Homo sapiens: one gene and its partner. The protein of the gene in region 1 purifies or fractionates together with the protein of each later gene. This does not show direct contact. Each region holds a gene or a part of one and is shown in the gene's direction. Other genes may lie near its edges.

Evidence for each region. The genes of interacting proteins can lie anywhere in the genome.
Region 2: the proteins of MTCH2 (region 1) and SKIC3 purify together in Homo sapiens (affinity purification with mass spectrometry; one large-scale study listed by BioGRID and IntAct). This does not show direct contact.

The regions. Positions count from the first base shown.
Region 1 is NC_000011.10:47,625,154-47,629,729, reverse strand, and holds part of MTCH2 (mitochondrial carrier homolog 2), read left to right. Parts: intron 1-683; coding exon 684-777; intron 778-2,602; coding exon 2,603-2,650; intron 2,651-3,988; coding exon 3,989-4,056; intron 4,057-4,576. UniProt on the Homo sapiens protein: Protein insertase that mediates insertion of transmembrane proteins into the mitochondrial outer membrane. Catalyzes insertion of proteins with alpha-helical transmembrane regions, such as signal-anchored, tail-anchored and multi-pass membrane proteins.
Region 2 is NC_000005.10:95,465,686-95,467,977, reverse strand, and holds part of SKIC3 (superkiller complex protein 3), read left to right. Parts: coding exon 1-112; intron 113-2,292. UniProt on the Homo sapiens protein: Component of the SKI complex, a multiprotein complex that assists the RNA-degrading exosome during the mRNA decay and quality-control pathways.

The DNA.
Region 1 (4,576 bases):
ACGGATTTTGAATATCATAAATACCCTGTGAGATAGGCAGGACAGCTATAATTAGTATCACTTTAGAGATTAAAAAACATTGATGCTCTGAGAGTTTCATCTGCTGCCTGTCACATCGCTGCTGAGTGCTGGAGCTGGCATTTGAAGCTGGTCTTCAATCCGTGGGGAAATGCTCTTCCCACTATTCCATGCTGCCTCACCTAGGTCACCCAGACCCTAGAAATGTGGTTTTTGATGCCTCTCATCTGTATCTGTACTTGGGACCATTCTTGCTTTGTAATTTTTCTCGTCTTTTGCTCTGCCAAATATGAATATCAGATAGCTTAGCAAAATCATTTTTTTAAGCTAGTCAAAGCAAAACAATATTTAAGTCTCTTCTGCAAAGCACCTCGCAAATCTTTTGCCTCCCTGCTTACAGTTATGAATAGTAAGGTGAGCCACTGAGGGTATAGCCGACCTGCATTTTAAACATAGGAACAAAAGTCACTGGAGATCAGCTTCAAGTACAGCTGTGTTAACGAGAATGAACTAGGTATGCGGGCTGGATTCTGGTGTTTGATTCCTTTTTTACTTCCCTAGAATGTTTTGTGACCTCTAATTATTTGACAAACATTTGTACTGAAGAGCCTGTCATGTTACTGATCACATTTTTTGGTTCTTATTTTTATTGTTTCTTCATGTAGGGGTCTTGTTCCTCGCCTTCTAGGTGACATCCTTTCTTTGTGGCTGTGTAACTCACTGGCCTACCTCGTCAATACCTATGCACTGGACAGTGGGGTAGGTTGTGACCTTCGTGAGATGTGCTCACCTTGGCTTTAATCTGGCAGCTAGATTAGCTTTTAAAGTAAGATGGGCCGGGCGAGGTGGCTCACACCTGTAATCCCAGCACTTTGGGAGGCCAATGTGGGCGGATCACCTGAGATCAAGAGTTCGAGACCAGCCTGGCCAACATGGTGAAACCTCGTCTCTACTAAAAATACAGAAAAAATTAGCTGGGCGTGGTGGTGCGTGCCTATAGTCCCAGCTACTTGGGAGGCTGAGGCAGGGGAATTGCTTGAACCCAGGAGGCGGAGGTTGCAGTGAGCCAAGATCGCGCCACTGCATTCCAGCCTGGGTGACAGAAGGAGACTCCATTTCAAAAAATAAATAATAAATAAATAAACAAGATGACAGTTTGCTACATGCCAGACTGAACAATTATATAGCTAAAAATTATCAGTCAAATTTTCAAATGCTAATGAAATGAGCATACTGTTCACTGTAGAACGATACTGTTTACTGTAGAACGATACACGTTAAAAGTCCGTAAGATGTGACAGAGTATACCCAAGAGACTTAGCCCTGTGTTACTTCAGGGCTTTAAAGAGATCACTTCTTTACTGATACTTAACTTGAGAGAACCTGGGAAAGCAGGACATCTTTATGGTGTATCGGGGGCTTTTCATCTAATCTGGACTTAAGAGGGTGCCTGTATTGGGCTTTCTAGAAACCTCAGCCTTTTGAGAATCAGTCTTATCTAGAAGTTGTCTTTCTTATCTCAGCAGTTGTGGGGCCTCTTGTATGTCGGCAGCTCCATAGCATGATGATAAATTGAACACATCACAGGGTATATGACTAAATCCATGTTGTAAACCTCTTGAGTACAGAGAGGGATTTTCTTCAACGCATCTGGTAGAAAGCTAGCTGTGTAAAACAAAGGTAGTGAATTGTCCCTTAGATATACTATAAATGTGGTTTTCCAGGGACTGTATTTCTAGGATGTGTGAAAAGGTTATCAATCTCATTTTCTTTAGTATTTGAAATCCTTTTACATTCGTCCCTAAAGCATTTTAGTATAATATGAATTTGTCTGTTAATATTGAATCAGGTTGATCATTTTGACCACTGCCTTATTATTCTAATAATCAGTGTTTTATGGTTTTGTCCTCAAAATTAGTTTTAGACAGGTGTGGTGGCTCATGCTGTAATCCCAACACTTTGGGAGGCTGAAGTGGGAGGGTCACTTGAGCCCAGGAGGTCAAGGTTGTGAGATCACAGCTCACTGCACCTCCAGCCTGGGCAACAAGAGAGATGAGATCCTGTCTCAAAAAAAAAAAAAAAATTAATTTTCAAGCTGTCAAACTGATAATTTAGAGATAGACTATATTGACATGGAGAGCAAGGCACAGTAGCTCCAGCCTATGATTCCAGCGACTCAGGAGGCTTAGGTGGGAGGTTTGCCTGAAGCCAGGAGTTTGAAACCAGCCTAGGCAACATAGCAAGACACCGTCTCTTAGCTGGGCATAGTGGCTTATGCCTATAATCTCAGCACTTTGAGAGGTCAAGGTGGGAGGATCTCTTGAGCCCAGGAGTTTGAGACCAGCCTGGGCAAACATAGGGAGACCCTTATCTCAAAAAAAAAAAGACACCATTTCTTAAAAAATATTTTGAAATTAGCTGGGCGTGGTGATGTGTGCTTCAGGAGGTCACTGCACTTCAGCCTGGGTGACAGAGTGAGGCACTGTCTGAAAGAAAAAAAGAAAAGAAAAGAAAAGGAAAAAAGAATATATTGATGTGTTGTAGTGTTGTAGGTAATTAATTTAAGGCTCTTTTCCTATTTTAGGTTTCTACCATGAATGAAATGAAGAGTTATTCTCAAGCTGTCACAGGAGTGAGTTTTTTAAAATCCTTTTAACCTTCTAGGAATAGTTGTGTTTTGTTTTGTTTTCCTTTTAAATCTGGCTTGTGTCATCACTGCTTTAAGATAACCAGATGTCTCACTGGGACATCTCCCTGAAATTTGTTATATTTGTCAAAGGTAAGAATAACTCAGTTTTCGGCCAGGCGCCATGGCTCATGCCTGTAATCCTAGCACTTTGGGAAGGTGAGGTGGGCGGATCACCTGAGGTCAGGAGTTCGAGACCAGCCTGGCCAACATGATGAATCCCCGTCTCTACTAAAAATACTAACATTAGCCGAGCGTGGTGGTGCATGCCTGTAATCCCAGCTACTCGGGAGGCTGAGGCAGGAGAATCACTGGAACCTGGGAGATGGAGGCTGCAGTGAGCTGAGATCACGCCACTGCACTTCGGCCTGGGCGACAGAGTGAGACTCCATCTCAAAAAAAAAGAGAGAATAACTCAGTTTTCGAAGGAACCACAGACTCACATGTGAAAATAAAGAGAGTAAGGCAGAACCCCTGCCTCACATCCTGCATGGTTTGGTACTGCTTAGCTTTCATAAGGGGCGTGCCTTTCCTCCGAAATAATATTGTTCAGGCCAGACATGGTGGCTCACACCTGTAAACCCAGCACTTCGGGAGGCCAAGGAAGGAGGATCACTTGAGGCCAAGAGTTCAAGACCAGCCTGGGCAACTGAGCAAGACCCCATTTCTACAAAAGTGAAAAAAAAAAAAAAAAGCTGGGGCAGGCGCGGTGGCTCACTCCTGTAATCCCAGCACTTTGGGAGGCTGAGGTCGGGAGTTCGACACCACCTTGGCCAATTTGGAGAAATCTCATCTCTACTAAAACTACAAAATTAGCTGGGCATGGTGGTGCATGCCCGTAATCCCAGCTACTTGGGAGGCTGAGGCAGGAGAATCGCTTGAACCCCAGGAGGCGGAGGTTGCAGGAGAATCGCTTGAACCCAGGAGGCGGAGGTTGCAGTGAGCCAATATCACACCATTACACTCCAGCGTGGGCAACAAGAGGGAAACTCCATCTCAAAAAAAAAAAAAGTAGTTGGGTATGGTGGCGTGCGCCTATAGTCCCAGCTACTCAGGATCAGAGAATTCTTCTGGCCTTTTGTTAAAATGTTGGATGCAGTGGTGTGCTAAGAGGAAGAAGCATCTCCAGGCTCAAAACTGTAACTGTTGTCTTTCCAGGGTACCGATGAAGCGAGACAAGTGTTAGAGTGTCTCACCGCAGTGGCACTAGGCCTTTAAGGTAAAGGAAAGGAGAATAAAGACTAGGAATGATCTAATAACAGCTGCCTTGTTTCCATTTTACAGTTTTTTGCGAGTATGTTGACCTATCCCTTTGTGCTTGTCTCCAATCTTATGGCTGTCAACAACTGTGGGTAAGCACTTTGTATTTCTTATTCTAGTAGGTGGTTGACTGTATGCTGACAGGCGGAGCAGCCTTGTAGAAATTTAGGAAAGATGAATGATCAGTATCAATCTCTGATTGGTATTTTTTTAAAAAGGGGGGGAGGAAAAGTATAATTGATACCATTAGAAGATTCCTAATTTTTTTCTTTGTATGCCCTATGCAGCAGCAGCCTCAATTTGTATTTATTTATTAATTATTATTATTATTTTTTTTTTTTTTGAGATGGAGTCTTGCTATGTTGCCCAGGCTGGAGTGCAGTAGCATGATCTCGGCTCACTGCGACCTCCACCTCCTGGATTCAAGTGATTGTCCCGCCTCAGCCTCCTGAGTAGCTGGGATTACAGGCATTCGCCACCATGCCCAGCTAATATTTTTGTATTTTTGGTAGAGACAGGGTTTCACCATGTTGGCCAGGCTGGTCTCGAACTCCTGACCTCAAGTGATCCACCCGCCTCAGTCTCCCAAAGTGCTGGGATTACAGGCATGAA
Region 2 (2,292 bases), on another chromosome or scaffold:
TCTTTTGGAAAGAGTGGTATATCAGCCTGGGTATCCCAAATCTATTGCATCAACTGCACGTTGGTACCTACTGAGACACTTATATGCCAAAGATGACTATGAGCTTATTGACGTAAGGCATTGATTTTATTTAAAATGTTTGAGGCATTGATTTTATTTAAAATGTTTTATCTTTGATCTAAGGGTTTTAGAGTTATTGTTCAAAGTTACTTCACTTTTATGATTGAATTTTTAAAAACTGAGTGTGTAATTTTTTGGCTAATAAAAGACTACAATGTCTACTGTTACATCTGTTGAAAATGAGAAATATTTATGCATATGGTTTAAAGGTTAAATATACAGTTTGTATCTTACCATGGGTTAGTTATGACATTCTCCTTTCGATATTAGAACATCAAAAGCTGGGGCTCTTTGGCATAAATAACAGAACTGTTAAAACCTGTATTTAAAAAAAGTTTAATGTTGATTTAACCTGTATATGTACAAGATGCCTTTATATGGGGAAACTATACAGGTTGAGCATCCCTAATCTAAAAATCCAAAGTCTGAAATGCTCCAAAATCTGACACTTTTTGAGTACCAACAACCTTGGGGTCGTGATCAGTTGTGAAGCATGTTGTAAGTAATTAGATACTAACCAGAGGTGACAAATGGTTTTACTTTTTTATTTTCAGTAATAAAATATAATAGATTCATGGATATTTTTATATATCTCTCTATTAATGCGTTCCTATAAGCTTTTTTAAGTGAAAGAGAAGGGTAGAATTTTAAGGAGCTTGTCTAATTGCAGGACTTTATCTTTGAACCAATGAGAACATCACAAGTTTAAAAGTCATCCATTAAATGTACTGAGGTTTGTAAAGAGTTGCGAACTGCTGATCTAAAGCCCTTACCTAGTGAAGTTTATAACAATACAAATATATGACCATCTAAACCCAACCTAAAGCAGTATCAAAAATCAACATTTTCTTTCCCTTTTTTGGCCAGAAGGGAATGACTTAACTATACTTTCTTTCATATTATTTATTTACCGTTGTTATTTCTTTATAAATTGATGGATAAAATATTTTGTCCAGTTTTTTATAAACATTGGATTATTTTATAGTAAGGAAGCAAAGAAAAAGCCGTAAGAATGAAGCAATGAATCAAGAGTTTTTCCCAAAGCGACATTTGTTTAAAACTATACTTATTCATTCCTTTTCTTTTTTAAAGAAAGGACTCTAAAGAAGTTGAAGGTTTTAACTGTATTTAAGCAAGAAGCAAGGCTAAGTAAAAATGGCCAGCTGGTAAACCAAAGGAGAGAATGTCCATGCATGAATTGTCACTGGTCTTGTATTAACATCACAATGATTATACTATTTTTGCCTGCCTATATTTCTCTTTTCCTGAAACCAGGATATGATATACCCCTTATAGTCTTTTTAACCCAGAGTTTCTCATCTTCAGAGATCTCAACTCAACCTACTGAGATTGTGGAATGCACAATTTTTTCTTAGGTGTGGGTTGAGGGTGGGTACTGTCCTATGCAATGTTGGATATTTGGCAGTATCCTTGGTCTGCTAGGTGTTAGTTGTATTTTTGCAGCCATTGCAGTGGAGGCAAATAGGCAGATAGGATGGAGTTAGAGGTAACAGAATCCTAATGGAATGTTCGTATTATCTTTAAAAAAATTGTTTGCCTTATTCTTGCCTTTACTATAAAATACATGTGACAGTTTCTACTCTACTTCTCATGCTATGGCTCTGGCATCTAAATATATAAATATATATGTATCCAAAATTATTTTGAATAATGTAGAGAATATACAAATGTATTGGGTTAAAATTTTCATAGCTTTAGCCAACAATTTTAAAAACACAATGAAAATCACTGAAAAGCTTTTTCAGTACCTACAGCATTTTGAAATACTGTTTGCCTTTTGGTGAAACGTAAAAGCTGAAAGAAATAGTAAAGAAAAGAATGCTTGGAGAAAGGCATTGTAATCAACATATTCCAAATCAAAAAGGTGGAACATATATGAATGTTGGGAGACAGTTCGCCGTGGATCTCTTGCATTTCTAAATATCCTGTGAGCAGGAGGCCTGATTACTCTTTGTTCTAGTCTATCTTTTCAAAGATATTCGTATAGTGAACATCCTTGGAAGACAGAGATAGTATCTCCCTCCAGAACAAAGGGTAGATATTCCTGTCCATTATAAAAGATTAAGCATCCTAGGCTTAGGGTTCCCTTCTTGTAATGCAACCGACTGCATATGTGGGAAACTATATCAGTCCATCCACGTCACAGACTGA